Linked DNA regions of Homo sapiens: region 2 is linked to region 1. Evidence: fine-mapped expression QTL. A gene starts in region 1. The other region holds a variant in brackets. All regions are shown on one strand. Distances are between the middles of the regions.

What was found. PIP is the estimated chance that this variant, and not a neighbour inherited with it, causes the effect.
Region 2: its variant is fine-mapped to the expression of FRMD4A in whole blood (TOPMed, PIP above 0.99).

What each region holds. Positions count from the first base shown.
Region 1 is chr10:14,322,297-14,337,326 of GRCh38, reverse strand. It overlaps FRMD4A (FERM domain containing 4A), which reads left to right and starts at 6,403. Exons shown (of 25, transcript NM_018027.5): 1 at 6,403-6,730; 2 at 7,144-7,269. The coding sequence starts at 7,225.
Region 2 is chr10:13,696,429-13,711,458 of GRCh38, reverse strand. FRMD4A (FERM domain containing 4A) reads left to right here. Exons shown (of 25, transcript NM_018027.5): 13 at 4,346-4,422; 14 at 9,981-10,119. It overlaps LOC124902379 (a long non-coding RNA gene), which reads right to left and starts at 3,893. Exons shown (of 2, transcript XR_007062061.1): 1 at 3,807-3,893; 2 at 3,049-3,704. It overlaps LOC105376426 (a long non-coding RNA gene), which reads right to left and starts at 971. Exons shown (of 4, transcript XR_001747371.2): 1 at 805-971. RefSeq lists enhancers at 3,554-3,613, 3,684-3,733, 3,764-3,813, 3,222-3,957 and a silencer at 10,666-10,715. The variant A/G (reference allele first, on the strand shown) is at 5,398.

The DNA of each region.
Region 1 (15,030 bases):
AAATGAGTTCGTAAGTATTGACTCCTCTTCAGTGTTCCCAAAGAATGTATGTAAATTTGGTATAATCTTCCTTAAATCTTTGCTAGGATCCACCAGTAAATCTATCCGGGCCTGGGGTTTTCTTTGTGAGAATTTTTACTTCTTTTCAAATTGGTTTGCCTTTTATTTACTTTGTGGGTCTAAAATAATCTTTATTTGGCTTTCATTTTTGAAAGATAGTTTTGTAGGTATAGAAATTTATACTGATAATTTTTCTTTAAATTTTTAGAAGAACGCTGCTCTACTGGATTCTTCTTTGCATTGTTTCCAAAAAAGAAATCTACTGTTACCCTTATCTTTGTCCCTGTGTACGTGATATATGTTTTTCCTCTCTGGTTGCTTCCAAAATATTCTCTTTATCACTGATATTGAGCAATTTGATTATGAAGTGCCTTGGTGTAGTTTTCTTCATGTTTCTAATGCTTAGAATTTGTTCAGCATATAATCTGTGAACATGTTGGCTATTATTTCTTCAACTCAATTTTCTGTGTGTCTCTTTTTTCAAGGATACAAATGATATATCTATCAGGCTACTTGAAGATGTCCTATAGCTGACTGATGCTTATTTTGTTCTTCGAATTTTTAAATATTTTCCATGTTTCTAATTAACTTTTTGAATATATTGAATACAATATATTCAAAATTGTTTTAATAATTAATGTTATTTAAACAATAATAATTGTTTTAATATTTTCTGCTGACTCTAACATCTATGTTCATTCTGGATGATTTTGATTGATTTGTTTTCTATTTAGTGACCATATCTTCCTACTTTCTTCGTACATGGTAATTTTTATCAGATGACATTCTAGTTTATAAATCTACATGTAAATTATACACAATGTAAATTTACATTATAGATTTAACCTCATTGAGAGTTGGATATTTTTGTAATTTTATAAATGTTCTTTAAGTTTGTTTGGAATCCAGTTAAGTTACGTGGAAATAGTTTAATCCTTTTGGGTCTTACTTTTCAGAATGGTTAGGCAGATTCAGGACAGTGATCAATCTATGACCAATTATTTCTCACTGTTGAGGCAAGAGCCATCTGAGTGTTCTAATAATGTATTAGGAATTATGAAGTTCTCCAGTCTGGCGGATGTGAGCAGACACTGTTCTGGCCCTGGGTGAGCACTGGTCACCATTCTTTCCAATCTTTTTATGTGGTTCTTTCCCCAGCCTTGAGTGGCTTCCCCACATGTATGTGGTGATCAGCACTCAACTGAGTGCTCATGGGGACTCTTTGAAGATCTCAGAAGTTCTCTTTCTCTTTACACCTGTCTTCTCTTTGGTGCTCTGTCTTGTGAACTGTGTTCATCCCAATCTTTCCTGACTCTCAGCTCTGTCTCCATGACTCTGGAGAACACTTGATTCCACGTAGCTCCACTCTCGGTTCCGTAGCCTGGAAATACTCTTGATTCAATAACCTGGGACAATTGTAAGGCTTCTCTAATTTGTTTCTTATCTTTCATGGATCACTGGCATTTGTTGTCTTATGTCCATTAACTTGAAAAGTATTGTTCCGTATATTTTACATTTTTTGTTTGTTTCATGTGAAGTGTAGACTTGCTCCCTCTAATTCCATCTTGGATAGAAGCAGGAGTTCTTCACATATTCTTAAAATACAAATATTTACATGGTTGCAATTAGAGAATATGTCTCATATTACTTGCAAATAAACATATCTCAGACATTTGCAATACTTCTAAATAGTTTCATAATTGCCATTTTAATAGCTGCAAAATATTTCACAGTGTGCCAAATCTACTTGAGCACAGTGTATACATTAATGAGTGATTTATGTCCCATCTCTTACTAAAAATGAATTTCAGATGGCTTACTGACAAAAAGGCCTACTCAATAAGAGTAATAGAGTATGCATTAGAAGGAAAAATAAGATTGAAAGAAAAGAAGGAAGTAATAATGCCAGTTATGATAGTATCTGCTGTCATTGAAAGTAAAATTAGATTTTGGGCATTCTGGAAGTCCAGTGTGCCAAGTGTGATTAGGTACACTATTCTCATTATCAGAATTAAAAGGGGACCAAAAGAGAACTCACAGTTATTGAATGTCTACTATGTGCAACTTAAGAAAATCTCTAATAAATAATACTTTCTTTGAGTCTCACCTCACCCTTGTAATTCTTGCTCGGGATCCTAGAGAAAATGACAGAATAAGCCTTCAGATTCCTGAGAGTAAAATGGCCTGGCAGGTGTTCTGGGGCCAAAGCCACCCACACCACAGGCTCTTTCAGGATAATGACATTTTCCTTTGTACTAGATTCTGAGAGGAATTTCTCACCTGGGGCAACTTATATAGATGGCAGTGGGTGGTCTCATGGCCAATGTCTGAACAACAGCTTCACGCTAAATACAGAAGAGTATTTGTTTGTTTGTTTTGAGATACAGTCTCACTCTGTGTCCCAGGCTGGAGTGCATTGGTGCAAACTTGGCTCACTGCAACCTCCACCTCCCACCTTCCTCCAAAGGATTCTCCTGCCTCAGCTTCCCAAGTAGGTGGGACTCCAGGCACGTGCTACCATGCCCAGCTAATTTTTGTATTTTTGGTAGGGAAGGGGTTTCGCCATGTTGGCTAGGCTGGTTTCAAACTCCTGACCTCAGGTGATCCACCCACCTCAGCCGCCCAAAGTGCTGGGATCACAGGCATGAGCCACTGCACCTGGCCCAGAAGAGGTTTATGAAGAGCTGTTTTTTGCGATGGGTGTGACATTGAACTATGCTTCATTTGAGGAGTTTTTAAAGGAGGATACATTGAAATGGATTTCATATATATATAGCTTTCTTGGGAGGTAAGATTAACCAAGAATCGAGTTTAGTGACTCAGAGGATGGGATTGCTGTCCCCACACCTTCTTCCTTCTGTGACCTTGAACTAGTTCTTGAAAGGACCTGGATAGCTCATATTCCACTGCTTTTTGATGAGGGCCTATTTAATATGAATTAACTTCTCTTCCTCACAAGCTGCTCGATAACCCCTTGCAGTTCGATTTCTGTGTCCGAAACTGTACTGAAACACCCTTCCACCCCACCCAGGCATCTTTGTGGAATGACCATTGCCACTCGAATTTGGGAGCTCTCTTCTCCTTTTCCTCCTTTGACAACTCCTTCTCCATCAGCCTGTGACCTGTCCTCACAAACTCCCCATGTCCTATCCACTCCCTGAGGTCTTGCCATTGCCTCTTCCTCTTTGCGCTTTACATTTTGATATCTCCATTGGTGCCTGATTTAATCTTATTGAGCATGGGCTGCTGTTTGAGCTCGATGCTTGGAGCTGTAGAAGTAAACAGAGAAGAGCAATGCTCAGTTCCGAAATTAGTTTGTTCCTCTCTAGTAGGGGGATACTAGAGAAAAGCAAATCACTGCCAATTTTTTTAAAGAAGGAATTTAAAAGTTGTACAAACAAAGCAACTATGAATGCCCAAATAGAGGAATTGGGAAGAATTTCATGAAGTATGCAACTTTTGACACTGAATGTTGTGTGAACGTATATGCTGTTACCAGACTCAGTGTATGTGTTTCCCAGATTTACTTGGCTCCTCCTGTCTTCCCTGGGCAAATTGAGCCACTTGCTCATTGGGAATCCCAGGTGCTGCCATTGTCATTTCAATTCCTGGCACTGCTAGCTGTCCTAGCCTCCCAGGACAGAACAGGGAGGGTTTCCATCCCACACACTGAGGCAGGAGCCTCACCACCCCAGGGCCCAGGTCCTGTCTGACTGACTCACAGAGGCTATGGTTTCTTCCTTATCTTCTGGGCTCAGATGCAATGCCTTTCATGCCTACCTGCGGGAGTTGGTAACATAACCCTGAAGCGCAAGAGGGTTAATGTCTGATGGAATCAATTTGACCAAAAAGAGTCAACTAATGGACAGCACTAGGCTGTTAGCTCCCTCTCCCTTCGTCTCCTTGATGGGTTATGCCAAAAACTGGAAGTTCCATACCTGTCTGGAAGCTCTTCCTCAGGACTGAGTAGCTGTCCTATGCCCACTTTGGTCAACCCCACCTTGTACCTGCTCTCATTCCATCCCTGCCTCACCTTCCCCACACCCCCACTCTTGCCACCCTGAAATTGCACCTCCCAATGATGTCTTCTTGCAGAAGATTTGCTGCAGGCTATTTTCCAGAAAATCTGGGCTGCAATTCAAGCAGACAGGGGATGAGGCTTTCCAGGCAAAGGAGCCATGAGTGAAGTGCTGAGAGAGGAAGGCGGGTGTTCTGGGGGCCAACGTCAAGGGCTGACACAAAATCTCTCAGGCCGGCCTCTGCAACCTAAGGATGTCCCAGACTGTCCCATACCTGAGGCTGCTCCTGCCTGTCTCTCCTCAGGGTTTGTCTTTTCTCTGCCCATATCCACCAGTTGCAATAGCTCCAATATTAACGTTTTTTCTTAGCTTTGGTTATTTTCCAAACACATAGTCCATGTAGAATCAGAAAGCAAATGTCCTGAAAAAGATGTTCTGCTGTTCCTGAAGTTCCAGTGCAAAAGCTACAAAAAAAAGAAATGGTAAGCCCTCCCTACTCTGTGCTATCCAAACTATTTGGGATTTTTTTTTTTGCATTTCTTACATATTATCTTGTATCATTAATGATTCTACCAGATAAAAAGTTCCTTGAGGGCAGAGGTACAAAGTCGGCATTCTGCAAATATCAGTTGAATACATTTAGAAATCCATCTGAAAAGTTAGGATAAGGTCCCTTAAATCACTATTATAGACCTGTTCCTTAAATCATTGTTATTATTTTTCAAATGTGACTATACATATTATTTTGAATAGTATTGCAATCCACCAGCACAGTCAGAATGTCCTGACAGTTCTGTGCAAGGCCACATGCATGCGACTCAAGTCATGCTTTGAATCTCCAGGCACCTGCTGGCAAGGAGGGTTGCTCTGGTGTTCCGGGGATCAGTAACATGAGACTCCATCCACACACTGTGGAATCAAGGTTCAAGCTCATTGGGCCACTATAGGAAAAACAAAATGGGAGAAAATTTTTCACTCACTTATTTTATTTTGTTTTATTCTTTTCTTTTCTTTTTTTTTTTATTTTGAGACAGAGCCTTGCTCTGTTGCCCAGGCTGGAGTGCAGTGGTGCGATCTCACCACAGTGCAACCTCTACCTCCCAGGTTCAAACGATTCTCCTGTCTCAGTATCCCAAGTATCTAGGAACACGGGTGCCCACCGCACCCGGCTAATTTTTGTGTTTTTCATAGAACAGGGTTTTGCCATGTTGACCAGGCTGGTCTTGAACTCTTGACCAGGCTGGTCTTGAACTCTTGACCATAGGTGATCTGCCCACGTCAGCCTCCCAAAGTACTGGGGCTACAGGCGTGAGCCATTGCACCCAGCCTTCACTCATTTATTGAATATATTTTAGTACTTACTCTGTGCTAAGCACTGTGATGAGCAAATACTTTTTATTTTTAAATTTTTTTAGAGACAGAGTCTTGCTCTGTCCCCCAGGCTGGATTGCAGGAGTGCAGTCATAGCTCCCTTCAGCCTTAAACTCCTGGACTGAACTGATCCTCCCACCTCAGCCTCCCAAGTAGCTGAGACTCTAGGCACACACTACCATGCTTGGCTAATTCTTTTATTTCTATTTTTCTTTTTTTTTTTTTTTTTTGTAGAGATGAAGTCTTGCTATGTTGCCTAGGCTCACCCTGAATTTTGGGTCTCAAGCTATCTTCCTGCCTCAACCCCCAGAAGTGCTGGGAATGCAGGTGTGAGCTCCCATACCTGGCCCAAATCAATAGTTTTAAAAGTATAAGTAATAAAGGAACAGTAGCTATGCTCGTGCACAGGAACATGAAAGGTCATTAATTTCTTCCCCCTAGTTTCTTATTTCGAAAACTGTTCTCTATGTTTCTACATTTCACACTGTCTAGTTAATTTTCAGGATTTTTTGGAGCCATTACAGGAGGTGAGTAAAGGAAGAAATCAGAAAAGGACATACTAGAAGTATCAGGAATAACCATTTTTAGTTGAATACATGGACTCCAGAAGAAGATACAAGCTTGACAGTGCTCATGAAAAGATATCTAATTTTCTTAAGTCTTTGACTCTGGAAAGCCCTTTGAGCTACCCATTATATAACAAGATTCGGCAGGTTTTTTCTTTCTCCCTTCATTGACATCTTCCGGGGAAAATGCTGCATGATATGATTTTCAAGGCTAACTTGCCTTTTCCTGTTAAGCAGTGTCCCTTGTGACAAATTCACCTCCTATGCCTCCCTGAACTAGGGAGGCTCCTTCAAAATTCCTAACAGGCAGCCCTGTGGAGAGATGGGAGGGAAGGGATGGGAGGGAGGAAGGGCGGGAGGAAGGGAGGGAGAGAGAGGTAGAGTGTGTCTGTATGCGGCGTACATGTGGTACAGCCAGGGAGATCAGAACGCTCACAGAACAGGCAGTGCAATTCCATGTTCCTCTTAAGTATGTTAGCCCTACCGGGAGCTGAGCTGGCCAGTCTACTTGGAGAGGAAAAGTAGATCTGGGGAAGGTGGAAGGGTCAGTTCCTAAGTGACTTCCTCCTCGGGGATGGTAAGGGCATTTGCTGATCTCCAGTGACTGCCTGGTGCCTCATGGTCAGACTCGGCTGTCTCACTCCCAGATATCTGATTTTGCAAAAAGGGACACACCTATCTGCAGCAAAGAAGACACTGACCAGATTGCGAGCGGTATGTTGTGACATTCAGCATGTTTATGCAGCAGAATTGCTGAGAGATGCAGAGAGAGGGGGTGGCTCGGGCTGCTTGATTTATCTGCAATAGGGAATGTTTTATTTTAATTGTCAGTTAAAGGAAGAATTGCTGCCAGGGCGAAGGTAGCAGTTAAACATTCCGTGTTCTAAGCTTTCACGTTTGTGTTTGATGCGGTCTCCCTGTCTGTGCCGCTTTGCGAAGCTAGGGAGGGCTCACTTTTAAATAACCTGCAGCTTCCTATTTTCCTTCTTCTTTTTTTTTTTTTCCTCCCTAAGCACAGTTCCCACCCTGTCTTCCCTGACCTCCTCCCCACCCTGTGTGAAAGGTGGCCTATCTTCCCCTTGAGCCTTTTGCTCCCTAAGTCTGGATTTTGGCTGCTTTTTCTGCAGGTGCTTTTGGATGCTCTGTAGCCACCCGGGGCCCAGGAGGACTGACTCGGCAGCAGGATTCGTGCATGGGAATCGGAGACCATGGCAGTGCAGCTGGTGCCCGACTCAGCTCTCGGCCTGCTGATGGTGAGTGTTCAGACAGGAGGTGGGGCCCGGGCAGCGTCCACTCCAGCCTCCCCTGCACCGTGGGCTGCTGCTGCCGCTGCAGTGGCTGCAGACATGTTCAACATTGCTCCGCTTTATCCCGCAGGCTCTTTGGAAATGCTTTCTTGGGTCAGAGTATCAGCATGACAAAGCACTTGCAGGGAAAAGAAGCTGTAGATTTGCCATTTCAGAAACTTGTTGCTGAATGCTATTTTGAGAGCTGTGCTTGCAAACAGGTGCTAAGAGCCCCTCGAAATAGATTGCTAGGATGCCTCCTCCAGCTCCCAGCATCCTTTCCCCCTTGTCTTTTGCATCTAAATTGAGCTGATTGTGTTTGTTTTTGGATATCTTCTCAGGGCAACTGTGGAATCTGTTGCCCATGGGGTGACAGAATGGGGTCTTCTTTCTAGGCGCCCATATATCTGCTCATACTTTCCTGTAGAGGTGGTGGAGGAGGTTCACTGTGGCTTCAGTGATGCTTGGGCTACTGAGTTGGGAGCAGCTTGTTTCCTATCTACCATTGATGGCCAACCTTGGCAGGACTTGTCCAGGCATTTATCTGTGTGTGAGCAGCTGACTCACCTTATGCCCCTCTGGAATTTTCACCATATTAAGAAAGCCCTAGCTCTTACCATATTAAAGCACACAAGGACATGGGCACTGTCTTGTTCCAACCCAATTGGCTTTTGGCTTGACACTAGGTTCAGCAGTGGCTTTTGCCATGGTTTTGCATCTCTCTCCTTTCCCAGGGTTCCCACACACCACGGTAATACTGGCTGTTGTCGGAAGTAGCCTGCATCAGGCTTGGCATGGAAATGTTTCCAGCATTTACACAGGAGATTTTATGAACCAAGCATAAGTGCTTCTGTGTATATTGATTTGTGTCTTCGGAATGAGGAGGGGAAATGCAACTTTGCAAGGCCTGATGAGTTTATGGAGGTGACTTGGAAGAGCCGTCAGTGGGAAGCCTGCCCCCTGGGTGGCAAGCCAGGTCATGTTAAAAGGAACAGATATCTTGGTTCTTCGTTGCTCAAAATTCCACTGGGTCCACAGATTTAGTTGAATTGCCTGAAATCTATCTCATGGGCCTCTGCTGACTTCTCATTTCACTGGGGGAGTAGGACTAGAAGAAATGAAATTGTCAGTTTCCAGAGAAATTACCCATTACCTGACTTCTTTCCCTTACTAATTCTATCGTCTGATGATACTTTATCCTCCATCGTCTACCTGTGGTCAAATAAACTGGATAGGAATTTTCATTCCATCACTGAGTATTCGTGATGATGGCTGGCACTAAAATGCATTATCTATGGGGTCTAGGAGACTTCTGGGAACCTGGGAGCCTGGGTTATATGCTCTGAAATACAGGCACACATATGCACACACACACACACACACACACACACACACACATGCATATGTATATTATATTATCTAGTACACTAACAGAAATAAATCCTGCATCGTGTTAATATAGAGGAGAAAAGTTTTCTTGAAAAATATCTTTAGGGAGAGTTAGACCCGCTTGTCTCAGCCTCCTACTTGGACCTTTCTTCTATACTTAGAAGAAAGATGTGTATCTGCTTTATTCCAAGCCCCTAAGCATGAATCCTTGGTATCCAAATTAAATGAATAGCATCCATTTCTGCTGTTATACACCCCCCCCCCCCACCCACACACACACACAGGCTCTTCTGGTCCTGGGTCTTCCACATATTATGGCTGCTGTCCTGGTAGTGTCTACATCTCAGACTTCACCTTCCATTTGTCAGTGGCCTCTGCCCTTAGATCTGTCCCTGGCACTCTCCTCCTGCCCGGAAAAAAGGATCGTGTTCTCCTCTCTTGGAAACCAGGGGAAAGAGCTCTTGACACCCTGATGGACCGTTTGATTAAAGAACCCTGGAGTACCATGTGTAATCAAAGTCTGTATACATTTTCTGGTTCATGTTTAGTTCAGGGAAATTTTCCCCTATGGACTTTGGTGCTATTTTTTTTCCTTTTTAAGGGTAAACCCCAAAGTAATTGCTTCCCTGACATCTTGCATGATGCATCTTAAAATTTATAAGCAAGCCGAGGAGGAAAGAAAGGAGGAAAAGAGGCCATTTAGCGGAGTTGCTTTGGCTGTGAGTTCAGGAAGGAAGCTGTAAACATTATTATTTATGAGCTCATTCATCAGCCAATCAGTTGTCAGTATTTATCGCGTGTCTGCTCACTGAGGAAAGTAGCCTGGCATAACAGCAAGAGCCAGAGCTCATAAACACACAGTCTGTGGGAGGCTGATACCAGGTTGGTGGATTGCAGTTCTGATTTTGTGCTATGGAGTCATCGGGGCTAAGGGGTAGGTGGGGAGATGATCTGGCCACACCCCTTGCTTTTGGATAAGGAGACACCCAGAGGTTACATTCAGCTTAGATGCTAAATGCTTCAGGGCAGAGCATGTTTAATTGGTTACAGAAGCGGCCACAGAGTCTGGAGGGTTGGACAGCCCTGTGCTCCATTCTAGCCTTGCCACTCATTGAGTGATCCTGGGAATGTCCCTTCCTTTCTCTGCCTTGGTGATGCCATTTGCTAACTGAGAGTGCTCTCTGATGTCTAGGTTCCCTTCCATTCTGTTAAACACAATTTAAGATCTCTAAGAAACAGTGTACAGATGAAGTTCCAGGATAGCCAATTCGAGGGCTTTATTTAGCGTTATGTCTCTATTTCCAACCTTGCACATGAGCAGTATTGCTATGAAAATGGTGGAGTGTGTTCCCACTCTGGCTTTTATGCTAGGGCAGATATGTTTCATATTATTAGCTGACACGGATGATCATTAGTGTTCATTCATACTCTGCCATCAGGAGTCTACCCCACAGGAACCTAAGTTGGTCCATTGGACAAAAGCCAATGACTTTTGAACAGTGTCTCAGAGGCCTTTTCAAGCTAGGGCTGGGTTGCGGTCAGCTGGGAGGGGTCCCAGGTGGTAAGCATGCCTGGACCATCTTGAGGTGGGAGGACCTCACTGATTCTTTCAACGGACAGCTCACAGAGGGCAGTGATGCCTCTCCACACAGGACAGAGCCACTCATATGACCACGGAAGGGGGGACTTGGAGAGAAGACACATTCTGGTGGTGGAGATGGCCTTTTAGGCTGTTGAAAAGCTGCCTCTCCCATCTTTGCAAGAATCTCAGGCAGCGAAAGAAGATACTGCTGTGTTCACCAACCCGTGAGGAGGCTTCAGATTGATGTGACTAATTGTAGAGCGGGAAGCTCTTGGCTACGTGTCATTTGTTGAGGGCGTGTGAGTTCAGGGAAAGCTGCAAGGGCTGGAACATGCTAGAGCCGAGGATTAGTTTATCTTTAGAGCCAGGATAAGGATGAATAACCAAGGGGCTTCAAGGGTGTTATGATGCCATTTCGGTTCTTAGATTATAAAGGCTCACCTTCAGGACAGCTAGATTAAAATAGTTTTTAATGGAAATTAACTGGATAATAAATAATGCAAATTAAGCTTTTCTATAAATGAAGTGTCTTTAAATACATTATCTCATTTAATTCCATCCATGACCCTATTTTTAAGACCAAAAAAAATCTGATAATTAGAATTTGGGAAACTGTCAATGGTCACATAAGTGAAACTGATGAAGCAAGTTCTCAAAATCTCGGTCCTCTGAGTCCCAAGCCAGTGCTTTCTCTGACAGCATATCAAAGCTCAACAATTTGACTTCTAGGACCTTCTAACACTTTGGATTCGCTCCTGAAGTTAGCTCCCCTCTGAACCAGTCAGCATTTTCTGTGTTTCCAGGTGAGGAATCCTGTCTTTCTGTTAATCATCTGTTCTTTTCCATATTGAAGTGTAAAATAAAAAAGGGATACCACAAGTCTGGCTCAAGATGTCTGGCTTGACTCTAGCAAGAAAAAATATTTTTTTATATCGATGAAATAGCTGCCATTTTTTCAAGGTTCTATTCTCTCAGACTCTGTTTCTAGGAAATTACTGAGAGTCATATTTTATAACATAAAAAATTAAATGTATAAAAACTCAATTCACAAGTCAGAGAAGTTAGTGGGTGATTAACCACAATGAATGAAGAATGTCAATTGGATTATCCTGAAGTTTCTTTCCATTCTAAATATTTGATTTCAGATTTCTGGGCTTCTTTTGAATAGACCAGCTCCCTTGTCTATGTTTAATAGATTTCAATGGGTAACCTGCTGTTCTATGAGTTTATCTCCCTCATTTCATTTCTTTATAAATTCTTTTCTAAGCCATTTTCCTCCTTTGGACAATTTCCTTTTTAACTAACCAACAAATATTTGCTGAGTATCTACTTTGTGCAAGAAGAGTACAAGGCAGTGACTGGCTTTAGCATACTTACAGTCTAATTGTCAAGACAGGTTGGAGATACGCAGGAACTGTAACAATGAGAAATTTACAGGACGTCTTCAGAGAATCACATAAGAACTATAACAAAACAGTGCCTAACTCATCACCAAGTGAGCCCTAGGGGGCGCTGGTTGTCAGAGTGGATGAACTTGTTCTTGAAGTTCAAGCAAGATGTTGAGTGATGGATGAGTTAAGAGAGCAGATTTGAGGTGAGGGGAGTGGTTGAATACAACAAAGTCTGGATCTTGTTTGGGAGACGGGGAGTAGACTGGTTTGGGCAGATTTCCTGTAGGTGACAAAGGGTTGCAAGATCAGAAAGGCCAGTTGGAGATGTGATCAAGGTCCTAGTTCTATTACTATAATCTAATCCTTCTCTACATTTGACCTGTGAGAGGTCTAATCTGATAGATTCAGATTAGATCCTGAAAAGAGATTCAGAATTTGTAATAAGCCTATGGCTTTTCCGCAGATCCCAACTGTCAAAAAGCATAGAATAAAATTGAGTTTTGTCTTAAGGACTCTTGCTCTTACATTAATAATCTCTATGTTTTTCAAAGTGCGTTTGCAGATGTTGTCCCACCGGATGTCCTCAACACTCCAGGCAGGTTAGGCAGGACATCTTCCTATTATATGGTGAAGTTGGGGTCCAGAGAAGTCAAAGGGCTTGCCCAAGATGACTCAGATAATTTGCGATAAAATTTAGATACAGGCCAGGTGCGGTGGCTCATGCCTGTAATCCCAGCACTTTGGGAAGCTGAGGCAGGCAGATCACCTGAGGTCAGGTGTTTGAGACTAGCTTGGCCAACATGGTGAAACCCCATCTCTACTAAAAATACAAAAATTAGCAAGGCGTGGTGGGGTGCACCTGTAGTCCCACCTGCTTGGGAGGCTGAGGCAGGAGAATCACTTGAACCAAGGAGGCAGAGGTTGCCGTGAGCCGAGATCGGCGCACGCCACTGCACTCCAGCTTGGGTGACAGAGCGGGACTCCATCTCTAAATAAATAAATAAATAAATAGCATTAAGATAGTACTCAAGTTTTCATGATGGTTCATGCATATGTTTGAAAAAAAGTGATATTGACAACTTTTATGGAAATTTGGAGAATAATAATTACATAGTAATACAGTGAAGCCACCTAAACCACTGTATACAGAATGGGGCCATCCAGGCATGGGGCCCAGGGGAGAGGTCCTAGATATTTGGGTCTAAGGGCGAAACTAATATTTAGTATCATCTATCTTTCTGGTTTATTCATAAGTAAGATAATTGTCAAAAAGTCCCTGAGAAATGGTCATGTCATTGTTACCTCCAAGTCAGTGGCAAAAACCCTTCTTAAGCTTAAATTATTGCACCCAAGGTAAAATTTCCCAATGGGTATCTTTGAGATCTTGCTATTAATATTTTTAGTTACTATTTAGTGTACAAATTTATCTGTTTCAAATGGTGAAATTTGAAATCCATAACTGTAAAACTAACTCAGATGATTTTTTGCTAAATATATTTTTATTTCATTTTCTGCTGGACCTGTTTCTGTTAGTCTAATCGACAGAGACTAACTCAAACTGCTAGCATTGGCAGAAAGGGAAACTTACTGACTGATGTGACCAGGGAGTCTCAGGAATAAAAGAGCTCCAGGAGAAGCTGGATCAAGGACTTTGCATGGTGGCATCTGAACCCTGTTTCTCTGGCTCTGCCATGTCTTGGCTCTGCTTTTCTTTGTGTGGACTTCATTTTCTGGCAGATTCTTCTCCCAGCAGCTCTAGGGTTACTTGTTCTTAGAGTTAGTGAATGTAGGTAAATGAGCAGGACTCTCTTTCATGGTCATCTCTTACAAGCTGTCTTTGGATCTCTTGAATAACAGGCTCTTCGCGGGCCAATTACTGGGTACAGAGATGGAGATTTCTGACTAATCAGGCTGGCTAATGTGTCTAGACCTACTGAAAGGAAGGAAGGAAGTAATCAACTGGCTGATAACTCTGTCTGAATTACATGGGGTGGGAAAAGCAGGTTCCAAAAAAGGAAGAGCTGTATTATCAGGAGGGAGGATGCTATTTTATCAGAAGGGGATGCTAGGAAGGGCAAAAAGGATAGATACCCATTACAGTTGTCTGTGCATCTTGTATACCATGATAGGTAATCTGCAAAACTAGTCAGGGAGGTAAAGCATCAGTGAATCCCAAATCATGGCTTCAATTTTCCTCAAAATAAATATAAATGGAGAAGCACAATTGCCTAAATATTTTATGCTAGTTTGAACAAATCTCACCGTCTGTAAAATAAGATAATAATAGCTACCATGTAAGATTTGGGATAATTCAACCAGATATGCATGTAAAGTTCGTAGTGCTATTTTTGGCCCAAAGCAAATAGCACAGTATATACTAGTAGTCCCTTCCTTTGTCTTAAAAAGATATGAAATGATTGTCTACCTGAATTCATCTCATGCAACTCTTACATGAGACAAAATCCATCTAAGAAACAAGTTGCCCAGTTCTGTCTTTCTCCATCCCAGTCTCTGGACAATGAGTGACCACCTCTGGACAATCAGCTAACGCTTTTAGAAAAACAGATGTTCCTGTGGCCATGTGAGCCATTCTAGTTATGAGCAAATTTAAATTTGCATTCCTATCTTGAATAACTCACAAAATTTTCTTACCCTTTGAAGGGAGATGACTAAAATATGGGCTGCAATATGTTCTCTCTGGCAAAGGCAAAATGCGTGCATTTTACACATGATGGGGCAGCTATGAGTGCATCTCTGCTAAAAATTAATTGTACAGCAGCTTTGCAAAGTATAATAGTGGTTTGGAGAACATACATTACTGGTGCAAGTAGCAGTTTCTCATTGGCTTCTATGCCAGAATATGAAGCTTAATGGAACATACGGTATTTAGCCTGGTAGTAATCAAAGGTCCCGGAAACATGCTCTACCAAGACCATGTGGTTCGTATCAAGTGGGGAGAGTGAATTCCAATGTCAAGGAAACACTGGCCTGCAACTTCTGTTGCATTGTGATGAGTGCTTTTTATAATCCTGGATATTGAAATCTTAGCCTCACAGTCTGGACCTGAAGAAGCAATTTCCTGAATGGTAGATCCAATTCATCTTTCCAAGTACATCATGCACACCCATGGTTTTCCCTGTCATCTGTACGCTAATGGCTCCCAAATCATGTCTTTCACTCAGGCCTTGCCCCAAGCTCCTAGTAACTGCAAGTCCAAATGCTTTATCAGATTTATTCTCCTGCTTGTTCCACAGGTATGTGAAACTCAGAACACCTCAGCCCAGCTCAAATGTAGAATTTATGGTCTTCTCCCCAACCTTAGTTGGTGGTGGTGCCTTTGTGCTTGTTATCCTGGGATTAGCCTTG
Region 2 (15,030 bases), 630 kb after region 1:
ACTGAGCCAGCGCAAGCTCGGGAGGCTCCCCTGAGGTGGCGCAGACCATCGGGGCTGCCCCGAAACCAGCTCAGTCAGAGCCCACCTTACCCTGTTTACAAAGGGGAGGCAAGGTGGAGCATCTCCTGTTTGTTGATTTGATTGTTGTGTTTGCTCTGCCAGCCTCAGAGTGAGGTATTTAACAGGCAGGACTTCTAAGCCTCAAGGGCCCATGGGCAGAAATGCCCCAGACCCCATGAAGAAAATGATGCTTTTCCAGCAAGCTGCACCCCGGCCCTGGGCAAGGGGCAGCTGCTTCCACCCTCCTGGTCCCTACTGCCTTCATATTCCTGCTCCCTAGCTCACCCCCTCCCTCCTAAGTGAAGAGAAGTCAGATCAGGCTACTGTTCTGACATGCACACCTTCTCTTCTGTTCCTGGGACCCTTTTGTTTTTGTGTTTGTTTTAAGAAGGAGCCTTGCTGTGTCGCCCAGGCTGGAGTACAGTGGCATGATCCTGGCTCACTGCAACCTCTGCCTCCCGGGTTCTAGTGATTCTCTTGTCTCAGCCTCCCAAGTAGCTGGGACTACAGGTGCCCACCACTACACCCAGCTAAATTTTGTATTTTTCGCAGAGACGGAGTTTTGCTATGTTGGCCCAGGCTGGTCTCAAGCTCCTGACCTCAAGTGATCTGCCCACCTCAGCCTCCCAAAGTGCTGGGATTCCAGGCATGAGCCACCATACCCAGCCCATTCCTGGGCCCTTCTAATGTCTCAACGCAACAATCTGATCCTGAAAACCACCCATCCCTTCACTTTACTCTTACCCTTCCTTCCCAGGATTGCATTTGCAAAACAAAAATTCATGCTTAAAGCAAGCATCAGGGGGAATCCATTGTTCTGCACCCTGCCACAAAAATGTCTAGTGCATCATCCCGGGGATAGGCCTGGGAGCCGGGACTCCATGGTTCGCAGCCAAGGGCAGAAGCTGGAGGCAGGGCCTTCCCACGGGCAGCTACAGCAGCCACAGACGGGGCCATGCAGCAGAGTCCAGATGGTTTTGTTCGGGCTCTTTGGCAGACGCGCAGTTCTCCACGCTGAACTGCATCAGGGAGCACTTAAAGCAAAGCTTGGTTTGTGTTTTATTTTGCATGGAATGGGGGAGACAGGAGTTGCCAGGGAAACAACCCCTCGGAGCATTCTGCTCTGGGGTTCTTCATCGGGTGGGGAGGGGGGCTTCCCATGAAAGGCACAGGGGTTTTCTCAAGCGTGCTCACACCTGGTTCTGCTTTCTTTCCTTCTCTTGGAGGGCTTGAGGGTTCCACCTCCCAGGCCTGCCCATTAGGCTGGCAGGCACCTTACCCCACAGAGCCTGCCAGCACCAGTACATGCCAGGACCTAAGGCCAGGATCAAGTCCACAATGAGCAGGGCCCAGTGCAAAATGGAAATGCAGGGCCCCTTGATCAAACCCATTAGGTGGGTTCAGTGTACACTGCTCAGGGGATGGGCACACCAAAATCTCATAAATCACCACTAAGGAACTAATTAACCAAATACCGCCTGTTCCCCAAAAACCTATGGAAATTAATTTTTTAAAAAGCGTATAGCAACAAGACAAAAAAAAAGAATAAAGATATAAAGAAAGAAAAAAAAACCTGTTAGGAATTTCAAGATATCAACAGCAGAGCAGGAAATCAAGCCAAGGACCTTCTGAGCAAAGGGCCCTCAGGTCGCACACCCAGAAGGCCGATCCTGTTCAAGACTTCACTTTGCCTGAGCAAGGCGGGTGCAGGATAGCGGCTGAGGGACCGCCGTGGTATGCAGCCAACAGGACCCTTTCATTGAAGTACCATCCACATCCCTTACGTGAGAGGAGGGGAGAGGCACTGGGAGAAAAATTCTCTGTATTTAAGGATTTGCAGCACACACATATTTTTTTTTTTAAATCCAAAACTCAGGGCTTGAGTTAGGAAATCTAAGAAAAGAATGATTCTGGTTGTTCTGGAGTTACTCTCTTTTAATCTGCAAGGATTTGGGAGAAGTAAGAGCATTTGGGATTCATAGTAAGATCTAAGGTCACTTTGTGCCGGTACTGTGCTACGATCTGTGGCTGCTGAGATCTACCTTAGAGGGGTTATTTTTGCCATTTTACAGAGGGGAAAACTGAGGCTAAAGGAAATGCTGTAACTTGTGTCAGGTCCAGCAGCTTAGAGCCTGAGTTGGGTGCGGTGGCTCACGCCTGTAATCCCAAAATTTTGGGAGGCCGAGGCGGGCAGATCACTTGAGCCCAGGAGTTGGAGACCAGCCTGCCCAACATGGCAAAACCCCATCTCTACTAAAAAATACAAAAATTATCCAGGTGTGGTGGCATAGTCCTGTAATCCCAGCTACTTGGAAGGTTGAGGCACAAGAATCGCTTGAACCCGAGAGGCAGAGGTTGCAGTGAGCCGAGATCGTGACACTGCACTCCAGCCTGGGGGACACAGTGAGAGTCTGTCTCAGAAAAAAAAAGTAGTGGAGCTTGGATTCAAACAGATGTAGTCAGACCACAAAGCCTGCCTGCCTGACCGCTTTGCTCAGTGTACTGCCCCCAGGCTATGAGGCCAATGTCGTGGAACCTGTTCATTCTGGTATTTTTGTAGCTCTGGCTAAGTTCAGGTGGAATGTCGCTGAATATATAATACCTGGGGACCAGAGAGGAAATTTGGGTGTTTTAATGGAAGGATTTATAGTGGCCAAGCATCAGACAGGACCATGAGACCTGGGTCTGTGTATTTTAGTAATAGACTCCGCTAAGGCGCTGTTGAATCTCTGACACAAAGCTGTCAGCCAACATAGAGCTTTGGGCCATTTGCTTTCCTTGCAGTGTCTCTCCACCCACCTGGAGTTGATGCTTAACAAGAAAGAAAAATACAATTTCCTTGGGCTTCAGAGTGAAATGCACTCTGAGCCGGGGACAAAAGAGGCAACTCTGTAATAAGAGATAATAGATATTCTCCTTCCCAGTACTTAACGCAGACAAAATAATTGTAAAATTCCAGAGAGCAGATTGTGAGGATAAAAGAATGTGGCCATTCCAGAAGCAGTTTTTATTCCAGCCCAGTTTTATATGGGGTGCTAGGTCCACTAGCCAACCATTGACTAGCAGTGTCCCCAGCCTGGGAAGACAGGGTGGGTCAGATACAGGAAATGGCCATCACGTCTCTAAGGTGGGCAGAACATGAGCAGGTCAGAGAGGGTCAGGAGCCTGAGGTCCGAGGACTCTGGGGTAAGACCCTGAAAAGCATTTAACTCAGTGGCCAGAGAAAGGGGGGAGCCCAGGGAAGCTGTTCCCCGCAGAAAGACAAGAACAAGATTCCTACTTTACCCCTTCTTTCCGCAAAATAAACCGAAATTCCCAGTATGTGGAAGGTGATGCAGTAACCAGCAAATATTAATGCAAATGTGTGTGCACACAAGTTGAACCTCCTGTGATATTTCCCAGAGGGTTAAAGTAACTTTCTTTTTCATCCAATGAAAGGAACCCCGTTCCTGGAGCAATTGGATGCAGCCCTAATTACTTCCAAACATTACAGTCAGCTTCTCAGTTAACGAGCTCACTGGTCCGAAGGAGGAATGACCGCCAGGGCCCCTTCATTCCACTTCTCACCCTCCCTGGCCAAGCTTGAGGGAGAGACTCTGGCCGCAGCGTCCTTCCGGGCGACAGAACTCTTGGTTTTCTTTGTGCTGCAGCAAGAAGAATGGGCTTGACAGGCTCACACTGTGATCTTGAGTTGCCTGCCCCCGAAATAAGGTCCCAGCCTCCTCCGCCCTTTGCAAGGCTCTTACACATTAGTGAGCAGGAAGTGGAGTCCCGATGGGAGGCTGGGAATTTGAACGCCTTCCCATTTCAGCACTGGAGGGGAGGAAGCTCAGTTCAGCACTCCACGCAGATGGCTACCGCTCCCTCCTGAGCGCTCGCTCCTCTCGCTCCTCTCCCCTCACCCGCCGCCTTCCCTGCTGGGTCCCTCTCCCCGGTCTCCACCTCTCCTCCCTCTCCTGGAAGGGAAAAGTCTGCCAAGCTGGGGACTGCCACGACCAAACCAACAAAGGCCGACCGAAGGCGGAGAACTTGAAAAGAACTTGTTTTGTTCCAGTTAAGGAACCTGCAGGAAAATCCACACCCACATTGCCTGGTTTTGAACTGGAGAGCTGCGTGTGTGTGTGTATGTGTGTGTGTGTGTCAAGCAAGAGGCGGAGGAGGCACAGACTACGGTCTCTGTTTTGATAAGGAAACTGCCAGCTGTCGAAAGTTAACCAGCAGAGAGGGGAAGATGGCCCAGGAGCCAGCCCCTCCTGAGTTTTAAACTACACTGTTTTCTGTCCAGATATTCCAATGGAGACAGTTGGAAAACCTGTACTTCAGAGAAAAGAAGTTTTCCGTGGAAGTTCATGACCCACGCAGGTAAGCTTGAAAAGTCCTTTTCTTGCGGGATGGCGTGGCTCTCGGCCGGGCGTGTTATGGATATTATTTTGGGGCTGTCGTTGTTCATGGTCAGTTTGGAGCAGGGAGCGAGGGTGGGGGCTCCTGGGGAATGGAGCTCAAATCAGACAGTGAAACTTTCTTTTCAATTACATGTGTTGATAAATGCAGTGGGTTCGCACGTGTGTGTAAGTAGCAATCCCCTGACTGTCTCATCTGGCCACATGTGTCCCTGGCTCGTGTGTGTGTGTGTGTGTGTGTGTGTGTGTCAGTGTATGTGTTTGTCTTACCTGCCGGGGCACTGGAAGGAAGCTTTATAGCACTTTGTAACACACACCAGTAAGTCCCCATAGGAAACTTTTGCTATAGAAGAGTCTGAAGAATCCCTCATTAGAGCTTCTAAAAGTATTTCAGGCAGGACGGTCAATGCGAAAATGAATTTGTCACCAAAGCAGTTGTGCTACGTTGTTTTATTCCAGGAGCTGTAATTTTAGGATGTTAGTATTGTGGGTGGATGTGAAAGAAATGAAATTATTTTTCCCTCCACCCAAAATCGTACCCCAGAGAGCACCAGGGTTGTAAAAAGTCCCTGTACTCTTAAGTCAGATGCAAGACAGTGGGGCCCCAGGTTGGAATGCAGGGAGCCCCAGGTGGCTGGGGTCTGGGCAGCTCATACCCACTGTTTTCCTCTCTTTGTCTGCCGCTGGACCTAAAGTTATATGCATCCCCAAAAACAGCAGCGTAATTCCCTAAAACCAGGCCTGACAACTAAGAAATCACTTTCCATAAGGTCAGAGACATTTACAATAAGAAGGTAGCCCCAGGGAGACAGAAAAAAGATCAGACTCTACAGAGGAGCAAAAGTGGGTTTTAGGCGCTGTTGACGCTCCAGCCCTGGGCTTAGAAGGAGGACTTGGCACCAATTCCAGCTCACACATGGCTTCTGATGCTCAAAAC[A/G]AGCTGCAGTCCCTCCCCATGAGCTCTGGACAGGAGGGAGATTTGGAGTTACCCCGCCCAGTGAGAGGGCTTGGACCTGTGCAGTAGCCCCTGTTCCTGCAGCCCATGATAACCCGGTAGGAATGAAGCCGTGCTTGCCCTCCAGGGTAATCTGCCTGAAACAGCCACTCCTGTGTAGGGCAAGAGCTTATCTCAGCACCACGGTTACTACAGGAATAGTTAGTGGAGAGCAGCTGAGAGTTTCTGCATCTCCACAGTCAGGTGAAAATGGTAGCCTTTAACAGAAAAATATTTTATCCGGTGTTTCTCAGGGCCCTGCAAGGGGTTTCGCGGCCAGAAGCCCCACTCCATGGAGCACAGATCCATCTGTGCAGGCCAAGTGGGGTGGGCGGGGAGATTTCAAAAATAAGATTCCAGCCAAGAAGAAACTCACTGTTCATTTTCCAGGTGAACTGAATTGGACCAGGTTCTTAGGCATGTAAGAGAGGGGAAATTTAAGTACAGAAAGAGTGAAATGAACTTTGCCACAATGGGTCAGATGCAGAAAGGGGATGCTCCATAGGATAAAAATGAGGGGCTGGGTAATCTAAGGGGCTGAGCGCAGGGAATAGACCCTCCGCCATGCCTGTGCTCTGCTGGGAATTCAGTGAACACCCAGGCACCTTGGACAAATCCTTTAACCACGCACGCATATATCTGCACATGTGTGTTCGTGTTCTCTGTGCGTCTGTCGCCCTATTGGTGAGTACTGCTAAACTCTCTTTACCAAAGCCCAGGGATATAGGAAAGAATCTAGATCTCACACGTGACTATTCAGTGGGCCTGTCGCCTATTAGACAGCAGTGATCAATGTCATGTTTCTTGCGAAGCTTCTGTGTCCTTGTCGGGTGCTGTGGCGGGGAAGGAAGGAAGTCGGAGGCAGGGTCTTCTTCCTTAAAGATCTTCTAGTGTAACTGAGAAGACAGGCAGAAGAAGGAACTTTTATTTTGAGACACGGTCTCATTCTGTCGCCCATGCTGGAATGCAGTGGTGCAATCATAGCTCACTGCAGCCTCCACCTTCCAGGCTCAAGCAATTCTCCCACCTCAGCCTCAGCCTCCCGAGTAGCTGGGACTATAGGTACACACCACCGTACCCAGCTTTTTTTTTTTTTTGGAGAGACTGGGTCTCACAGTGTTGCCCAGGCTGGTCTCAAATTCCCAAGCTCAAGCAATCCTCCCATCTTGGCCTCTCAAAGTGCTGGGATTACAGGCGTGAGCCACTGCCTGGAACCTGGCTGAGAAGAAGGAACTCATGGAGTGTCACAAGAAACAAAGAAACCTGCTCTAGACGACAAGTAGCTAGTATACAGGAGAGGCAGGATTTGAACCTAGGAGGTCTGGCTCCAGAGCTCATGCCCTTTATCTCTATACTGTACAGAAGGGCCAGACGTCGTGGGCCATGAAGGGTGAAGGACAGGGTCACCAGAGGCCTGGCTGGTCAGGAAGGGAGAGGCTTACCAGGAAGGAGAGGTCTGAGTTGGACCTGGAGGGGTAACTAGGATTAAAGCCACGTGGTAGGGCCTCAGGGGGATATAGATGTCAGGTGGGGGCTTCTCAATTAGGATAAACAAATGAGGGAGGGTCTGGCTGGAGGGAAGTGGGAGTTGGAGGAGCCCAGAGGAAGAAGCAGAGCTGTCTCGTCCCAGGCAAACTCGCTCTGAGTACACTGAGTTAGCCTGCAGACAGGCAGGAATGGGGGAGAGGCCCAGGGAGGCCAGAGGTGGAGACCCGGGATGACTTCAGCATTAAAGACACACAAGGAAAGGAAATGGCTTCAGGTCAGTTATTTAGCATGGCAGAGCCAGAGCTATGAGCTGTAAGATCTTTCTTGCACTCAGTTCTCTTTTTCACATCCTAGTGGTGCCTTTTTTCTCTTGTATTGAGAGTTACTATTTCACGTATTCATGAGCCACGTGTGAGTGCGTTACATGCATAGAACATGGAATGATCAAGGCAGGGTACGTGGGGTATCCATGGCCTTGAGTGTTTTTTTGTTTGTTTGTTTGTTTTGTTTTTTGAGACAGAGTCTCACTTTGTCCCCAGGCTGGAATGCAGTGGCGCCATCTCGGCTCACTGCACCCTCCACCTTCCAGGTTCAAGCAATTCTCCTGCCTCAGCCTCCCAAGTAGCTGGGACTACAGGCGTGCGCCACTACACCCAGCTAATTTTTTTATTTTTAGTAGAGATGGGATTTCATCACGTTGGCCAGGATGGTCTCAATCTCTTGACCTCGTGATCCACCCGCCTCAGTGTTTACTATTTTTATGTTGGTATCATTGCAAGTCCTCTCTTCCAGTTACTTTGAAGTGAACCTCGCGGTGCTTTTTAAGTTGAATGTGTCATCCTATTGCTTGTGGCCTTGCTTATTTGAGGTAGGGAAGAGGAATGTGATTGGCCTCACGTTAGTTTGGTGTTCCGGGCTCAGCCCCTCCCCCAAGCCAGGAAGGCAGTCAGAACTGCAGTAATAGGATGGGCAACGCCAGATACGGTCATTTAATGAAGATGTAATCGATGGGAATGATTCAGGGCAGAGGCTGCTTTCTGGGCCGATGGGCTCAGGTGTGATTGCACCATTCCCTGTGGGGCACTGGACAACACTGTGCACTTTCTCCCCCTGGGCATCCTAACTCAATGCTTAGCTTCATTTCTGAGCTTCTCCAGGCTGGGCCAATATTTCACTTCTACGGTTTGGGTAAAATAGGAAGGGCTTGAAGCGAAAGATGAGGAGAGGAGATAAAGTAATGATAGAGCAGGAGAAGAACTCTGAGTATCTGATTTAGATGCTCCGGGGAACTACCCGGACCTGACCAGCCACTTACCTCTTCTGCCCTCCCGGTACCTGAGAAATGGAGGTACCTAGCCTTGCACCACCTTTCAAGATACTGTTCTTGTCTAATTCAGCTTTTCTGGGGGGAAAAAAAAGTCATTCATTTATTTCCAAGAGCAAGAACTGCTATGGAAGCCAAGCTGGGAGCACAGATCCCTGTTTTCTTTTAAATTTAGAGAGACTGGCGAGGGATCTCCCCCTCGCTCTCTCCCTGGCTCCTTTTTTCAATTATTTTCAACTGTGTGCTCTTTCACGCTCTGGCTTTTTTTTTTTTTTTTTTCCTTCACTTTTGTTGGAACCGAAGGGAGAAAAAACCTGTGTGGACTCAGTAACATTAACCACCGGATCTGAATTTCTCCTTAAAAGTGAGGGTGAACAAGACTCCACTTTAAATCTTTAGCACCCCCGACCCCCGCCCAAAGTAAGATATTGCTGGCAGCTTTGTTTTCTTTAAGGGAAAATTAGCCATGAAAAAAAATGTTATTGTTTGTAAGTCCTGATTACCCCCAGGTTTCTTCCAAATTAGATATGTTAGTCTTGAGAACATACATTTTGTTTCTGATGTCCATGTAAAATGCCCCAAATCCCAGCCCACCTTCCTGTCAACTTGTCTCACATGCATGCGCACACACACACACACACACACACACACATGCAAACACACATTCTTAGATTTCATTTGCAAAATAATCTGCCTATCCTATAAAATATACTTCACTAAGAGCATGACCATATAACTCCCCCTAACTCCATGAATGTGGAGATGAACAGTTCCCGTTTTCACTTTTAAAGTCTGATTACTCCATGTAGATTTAAAAATGTATAGACAGGGCCAGGTGCGGTGGCTCATGCCTGTAATCCGAGCACTTTGGGAGGCCGAGGCAGGTGGATCACCTGAGGCCGGGAGTTAGAGACCAGCCTGATGAAACCCTGTCTCTACTAAAAATACAAAAAAGTAGCCCGGAGTGGTGGGGGGCATCTGTCATCCCAGCTACTTAGAAGGCTGAAGCAGGAGAATTGGTTGAACCTGGGAGGTGGAGGTTGCAGTGAGCTGAGATCTTGCCAGCACGCTCCAGCCTGGGTGACAGGGCAAGACTCCATCTGAAAAATATAAATGAAATGTATCGACAGACGTTGGGGGAATTGGGGCTGGGCACATTTCTCTCTGCCTTTCTTCTCCTGATTCTTTATACCCTCCCTGCCCTCTGAATAGATTGGAAATTGATCACCAAATCTTCAAGGAACATTGGGTTAGTTATATAAGAAGTCCCAATTCCCTGGGACGCTGTAGCCTGTGGTGATTAGAAAATAATTTACTCATCCCCACCGTAGGCACATTTCCTGTCTCATAGGGAGCATCATTGAAGGTTTTCCTGTCTGCGAAGTTTGTCTTGGCCCAGTGCCAAGTCCAGGATCGAAAAAGGACCATCCATTGACCTAGAATGACCCATCTTATCCCAGACAAGGCCGAGGCTTGGCCAGATTCTGAACTCTAGGGAGTCAGAAAATCAGAAGGTGGCCTTTGCCCAGCCAATGATGTCTGTAAGCTGTGTGCGCATGTGTGTGTGTGTACGCCTAGGTGTATGTGAGAGCTCATCTATCATCTTTACGCCAGGGCTTCTAGGACGCAGTGGGTTCTCTACAGAAGCTGTTGACTGAGAAATGGTTTCTCTCAACAGAAATGGGATTGAACCTTGTGATTCTTGCTTCCCCAGGGCTTCAGTGACAAGGAGGACGTTTGGGCACAGCGGCATTGCAGTGCACACGTGGTATGCATGTCCGGCATTGATCAAGTCCATCTGGGCTATGGCCATAAGCCAACACCAGTTCTATCTGGACAGAAAGCAGAGTAAGGTGAGTGACCAGACCTCTCACCAAGCCCGGGCCATTGTCTGCCTCTCTTAGTTTAGGAATGAGGATCGGATGGGTGGGGGAGGCGCCATGTCCCTTGCCCGGGTCCATACCTTGCACAGATACAGGCTTGCCTCTTAGGGCTACAGATGGGAGGGATGAGACTAGCTCTTCAAGAGGGCACATTCCATGCATCTTGGTCCAGGGGGCTCTGACCACCATCAGAGCCGCTCAAGCCGCTGACTGCAGCCAGGTAGGCCCCTTTTGAGGAATTCCCACTGTGCTTTTGGCCCTCGGGAGAATCCTCTAGCAGCGTGAAGGCAAGCCCTTTTTGGTGTTTAAACAGTGGTATACTATCTTCCTTTTGAAAAGAAAAAAGGAATCTTTCTCAACGAATAGACACCACCTAACTGTTTAGGGTAATTGCTGTGAAAACCCTCAGGCGGTTCCAACTGCCAACTCCATTTTTTTTTTTTTAATGCAAAACTGGAAACGTTAAAAAAAAAAAAAAAAAAAAAAAAAGCAACTACCCTGTTTCCCTAAGGTAGACCTAGAGCCTGGGGCCTTGGTAAACAGACTTCCTCCAAGGAGATGTCACCACCCCTGACTCTGGGCACGCAGCTGCGTTTTCTGGTGGGTGAGAGGATGACGTCTCCTTGGTTCACACAGGGCTTATATCAACACTCTGCCCCCTCTTCCTCCAGCCCTGTCTCCCCAGACTCCCCTGTCAGCCCCCCACAAGCCACTCCCATTCATTCTCCCTCAGGGGAAGAGCCCTGCCAAGATGGCCCTGCAGCTTCTCTCAAGATCCTGCTGGCTTGGGCTGGGGGAATACAGACTGAGGTCACCCTGGGCCCCTGGGCTAGTGGTTTCTAGCACTTACGGAGGATTTCCCTCCATCGCGTGAGTTCTTGGGAGAAGGTGGCAAGATGCTCAACTTACTGGGCACAAGAGTCACTGAATCGGTGCCCTCTAGGGTTCTTTCTCTTTTGCCATCTTATCCATATTTTAAGGGGTTTCTCTTTTTCTGGGGAAGAGGAGAGTGAGCGAATTGGGGGTCAAGGGGGAGGTGATAAGAGAAAGAAAAGAGGACAGGGCTGGGCACAGTGGCTCACATCTGTAGTCTCAGCGCTTCGGGAGGCCAAGGCAGGAGGATCACTTGAGCTCAGGAATTCCAGACCAGCCTGGGCAACATAGTGAGACCCCCATCTCTACTAAAAGAAAAAAAAAAGAAGAAAAGAGGACAGGACGAAATGAAACAATCCCTTTAGTCATAATTCAGTTTTAAATTGGGGTCTGTCCCCCGCAGCCGTCATTTTATCCTTTGTAAAATATCTTGTCCTCTACTTTCTGACCCCCTTTTTGGTCATTTTCTGGGATGAATGAGCGCAGGACAGAGAATTTCTGTTGTTAGGAATAATGACAGTATTCTCCGCAGCTCTCCTGGCAGTGATGGGTCCTAGTCCTAGCGCAGGAATTTGAAGCTCGATTAGATCAAAAGAAATGGGGCCAAAGTGTTTTTGACTCATGCTCGATATTGACACAGTGGGTGGGTGTCAGGGTTTTGCTGTCCAGGGGCAACAGTTGGAGGTCGACACCTGAGAACGTTAATTTCACCCTCTGTGGTTGGGTGATGGATGGTGGGGGTTAGGGGATTGGGCAATGCTCCTGAACCCCACTGCCAGTTCCCCTTGACGGCAGACCCCCCACGCACTGTACCACAGTGTGGACAGAGGAAAAGGTGTATCTCGCCCTGAGGATAGCACAGCATTGGCTGTTCAAGCTCCTCCTCTCTGCGCCGGTTTTTGCATAGGCGGTCTCTTGAGCATTTCAAGAAACTTGTTCTTATGGCTTTCCTGCTGCACCCGGGAAGATGGGCTCATTCTGCAGTTGGCAAGCCTTGTTGTTGAACAGGCTAACAGGTCAACTCACTGACACAGCAAGTATATCTCAAAAGGAAATTATTGGCCGGCCGCCATGGCTCACGCCTGTAATCTCAGTACTTTGGGAAGCCGAGGAGAGCAGATCACTTGAGGTCAGGAGTTCGAGACCAGCCTGGCAAACATGGGGAAACCCAGTCTTTACTAAAAATACAAAAAAAAAAAAAAAAAAAAAAAACAATAACCAAGCATCGTGGCAGGCATCTGTAATCTCAGCTACTAGGGAGGCTGAGGGAGGAGAATTGCTTGAACCCAGGAGGCAGAGGTTGCAGTGAGCTGAGATCACACCACTGCACTCCAGCGTGGTTGACAGAGTGAGACTCCATCTCAGAAAAAAAAAAAAAAAAAGATTATTGTAGATAAATTAGCAACAAGACGTGTCTTTTAGGAGGTAAAACCAAATGCCCCATAGCATTAGGAATGTTTCAGCTGTCCCTTTTGTAAAAGTAACCCTTGGGGACTGAAGAAAATGCCCACGCTCCCAGAAGGAGAAGGAGAACATTTCCCAGGAAGCCTGGCATGCTCACAGATGTCCTAGAGCCCTCACACTTCTCACAGGAACCAGTTCCCCAGCCTGCAGTGACAGGTGAGGATCACAACCCTCTATGTGGGAATTGGAGGCCTCTGTTTTCCAGCTCTGGGACCCCGGGTGGGTCTTTCATCCTTGGTGTTTTGCTTTCCCCAATTAGCAGCAAAGGAAATTCCTGACCTCAATTAGTGATTGGTCAGATGGCACCACGTTTGTGAAATTGCTTGAGGAAATACGTGCCATCTTTTACTAATGTCATAGTTAATCTAGCATACTATCACTGGCCAACACTTGCATGAAGTTTAAATTCTCTAAAAGGCCCGCAAATTAAATCAGAGATGATGACGTACCCTTTGGGAATTACATTACAACACCTTTCTGTTTCTGGAATGTTCTTTATAGAACAGCGATGTGATTGATCTCTGATGGGCAGCACGGCCTCTGGGTGAGTGATGGCCGACAGGGCTGGGACAGAGAGCTTCATAACATTTCTAGGCAGCCAGTTCTGGCTGGTATCCTGGCCACTGCTCACACTCTACTGTACTGGGACATGCCAACCATTCCTTTCTCTGAAGAGCTTCAGCAAAGCCCAGGCCTCCCAAATGATGTTTATCAACCCTAGAGAGACAAGTGAGGTCTAGTGGTTCGAGTCAGCAAGGGTAGGGAGCCATGAGGGTTCAGGTGCTCCCCTGACACTCGGGTTTTTTCTTCTTTCAGGGTCACTGTGCAAATCATTTAAGGAAATCTCTCCTTCTTTCTCTCTGCCTGTCTCTCCCTCCCTCCCTCCATCAGCTCTCCATGCATATACATCAAGAAACCATTCTACGATCTAAGACAGGGCGGAGGGAGGCTGTGCTGGTTGGTTATTTGTAGCTCCTTCAGAATGAGAAGCTGCACAGGCACCAATTATAATTGGTAACTTCTATGCTGACCCCAGAGATCAGAAACGTTGTCTGCTAGATCCCAGCAGCCTCTGAAGCCCAGAGCCAAGGAACGTCTTAGAGACTTTGCAGGAAAATATTTGAAAGTTCAAAATGTTTAGAGTCGACATTAGACACTTTTCCCTCTGAACTCAGAGTGGGGACTTCTTGAATTGGCCCCCAATCCAAACGTCTTTCCTTCTTCCTAATCTTTTTTTTTCTCTCCCTGATGCAGTTCACCATTTTATTTAGAGTCAAAGGCAGAGTCAAAGGGGGACAGGGACATTGAAGCTTTGTTCCCACAATATCAGACAGAAGACTGAGTCACGTGTATCAGCCAAGACTCCCAGACCAAAATGTTCCAGAGTCTGGGGACTCCTTAAGGTCAGCCCAGAGACCTGACTTTGCAAAGAGAGACTCTCCCCGACAATGCCCATGTCCTCCCGGTCCTCTCCCCACCGAGTCTGTTAGGTCGCTGTGATATTTTCCATTCTAGAAAGAATCCGGACCGGGCGCAGTGGCTCATGCCTGTAATCCCAGCACTTTGGGAGGCTGAGTCGGGCAGATCACCTAAGATCAGGGGTTTGACACCAGCCTGGCCAACATGGCAAAACCCCGTATCTACTAAAAATAGCCAGGCGTGGTGGACCACATGTGTGGTCCCAGCTACTCAGGAGGCTGAGGGAGGAGAATCGCTTGAACCCAGGAGGCAGAGGTTGCAGTGAGCTGAGATCGTGCCACCGCACTCCCCCAGCCTAGGCAACAGTGTGAAACTCTGTCTCAAAAAAAAAAAAAAAAAAATCCAGTAGTTTGCTAAAGCTTCCATAAGGCTTCCAGGAATCTAGTCTCCTTTAGGAAGGATGCCTTTTGATCTCATATTTTTGTTTTAAGAATGATGTGTGGCAAGAGTTCTGGTATGACAAGGGGGATAAGTTTTTCATGTGATTAATGAGGTCCCCAAAATATCTGGTTGGGCCATCAATCTAACCTCAGTTAGCAAATTACAGCCAGGCCCTAATGCAGATCCTATTCTTATTACGATGGCCTTTACATAAATTATCTACTTTAGTTATCACAACTCTGGGATGTGGGTTTTAAGACCTCCATTTTACAAACATGTATCTGAGAATCAGGAAGGTGAAGGGTCAAAGTCCGATAGTGATTCACTGGGAAGAGCCAAGATTCTAATTCAGGTCTTTTTTTTTAGACAGTCTCACTCTAGCACCCAGCCTGGAATGAGATCAGGCAGTGGCGTGATCTCAGCTCACTGCAACCTCCGCCTCCCGGGTTCAAGCAATTCTCCTGCCTCAGCCTCCAGAGTAACTGGGACTACAGGCGTGTGCCATCACACAAGTCTAATTTTTGTATTTTTAGTAGAGACAGGGTTTTGCCATGTTAGCCAGGCTGTTCTCAAATACCTGGCCTCAAGTGATCCACCCACCTCGGCCTCCCAAAGTGCTGGGATGGACAGGCTTGAGCCACCATGCCCAGCTCTAATTCAGGTCATTCTGACTTCAGAGCCCAG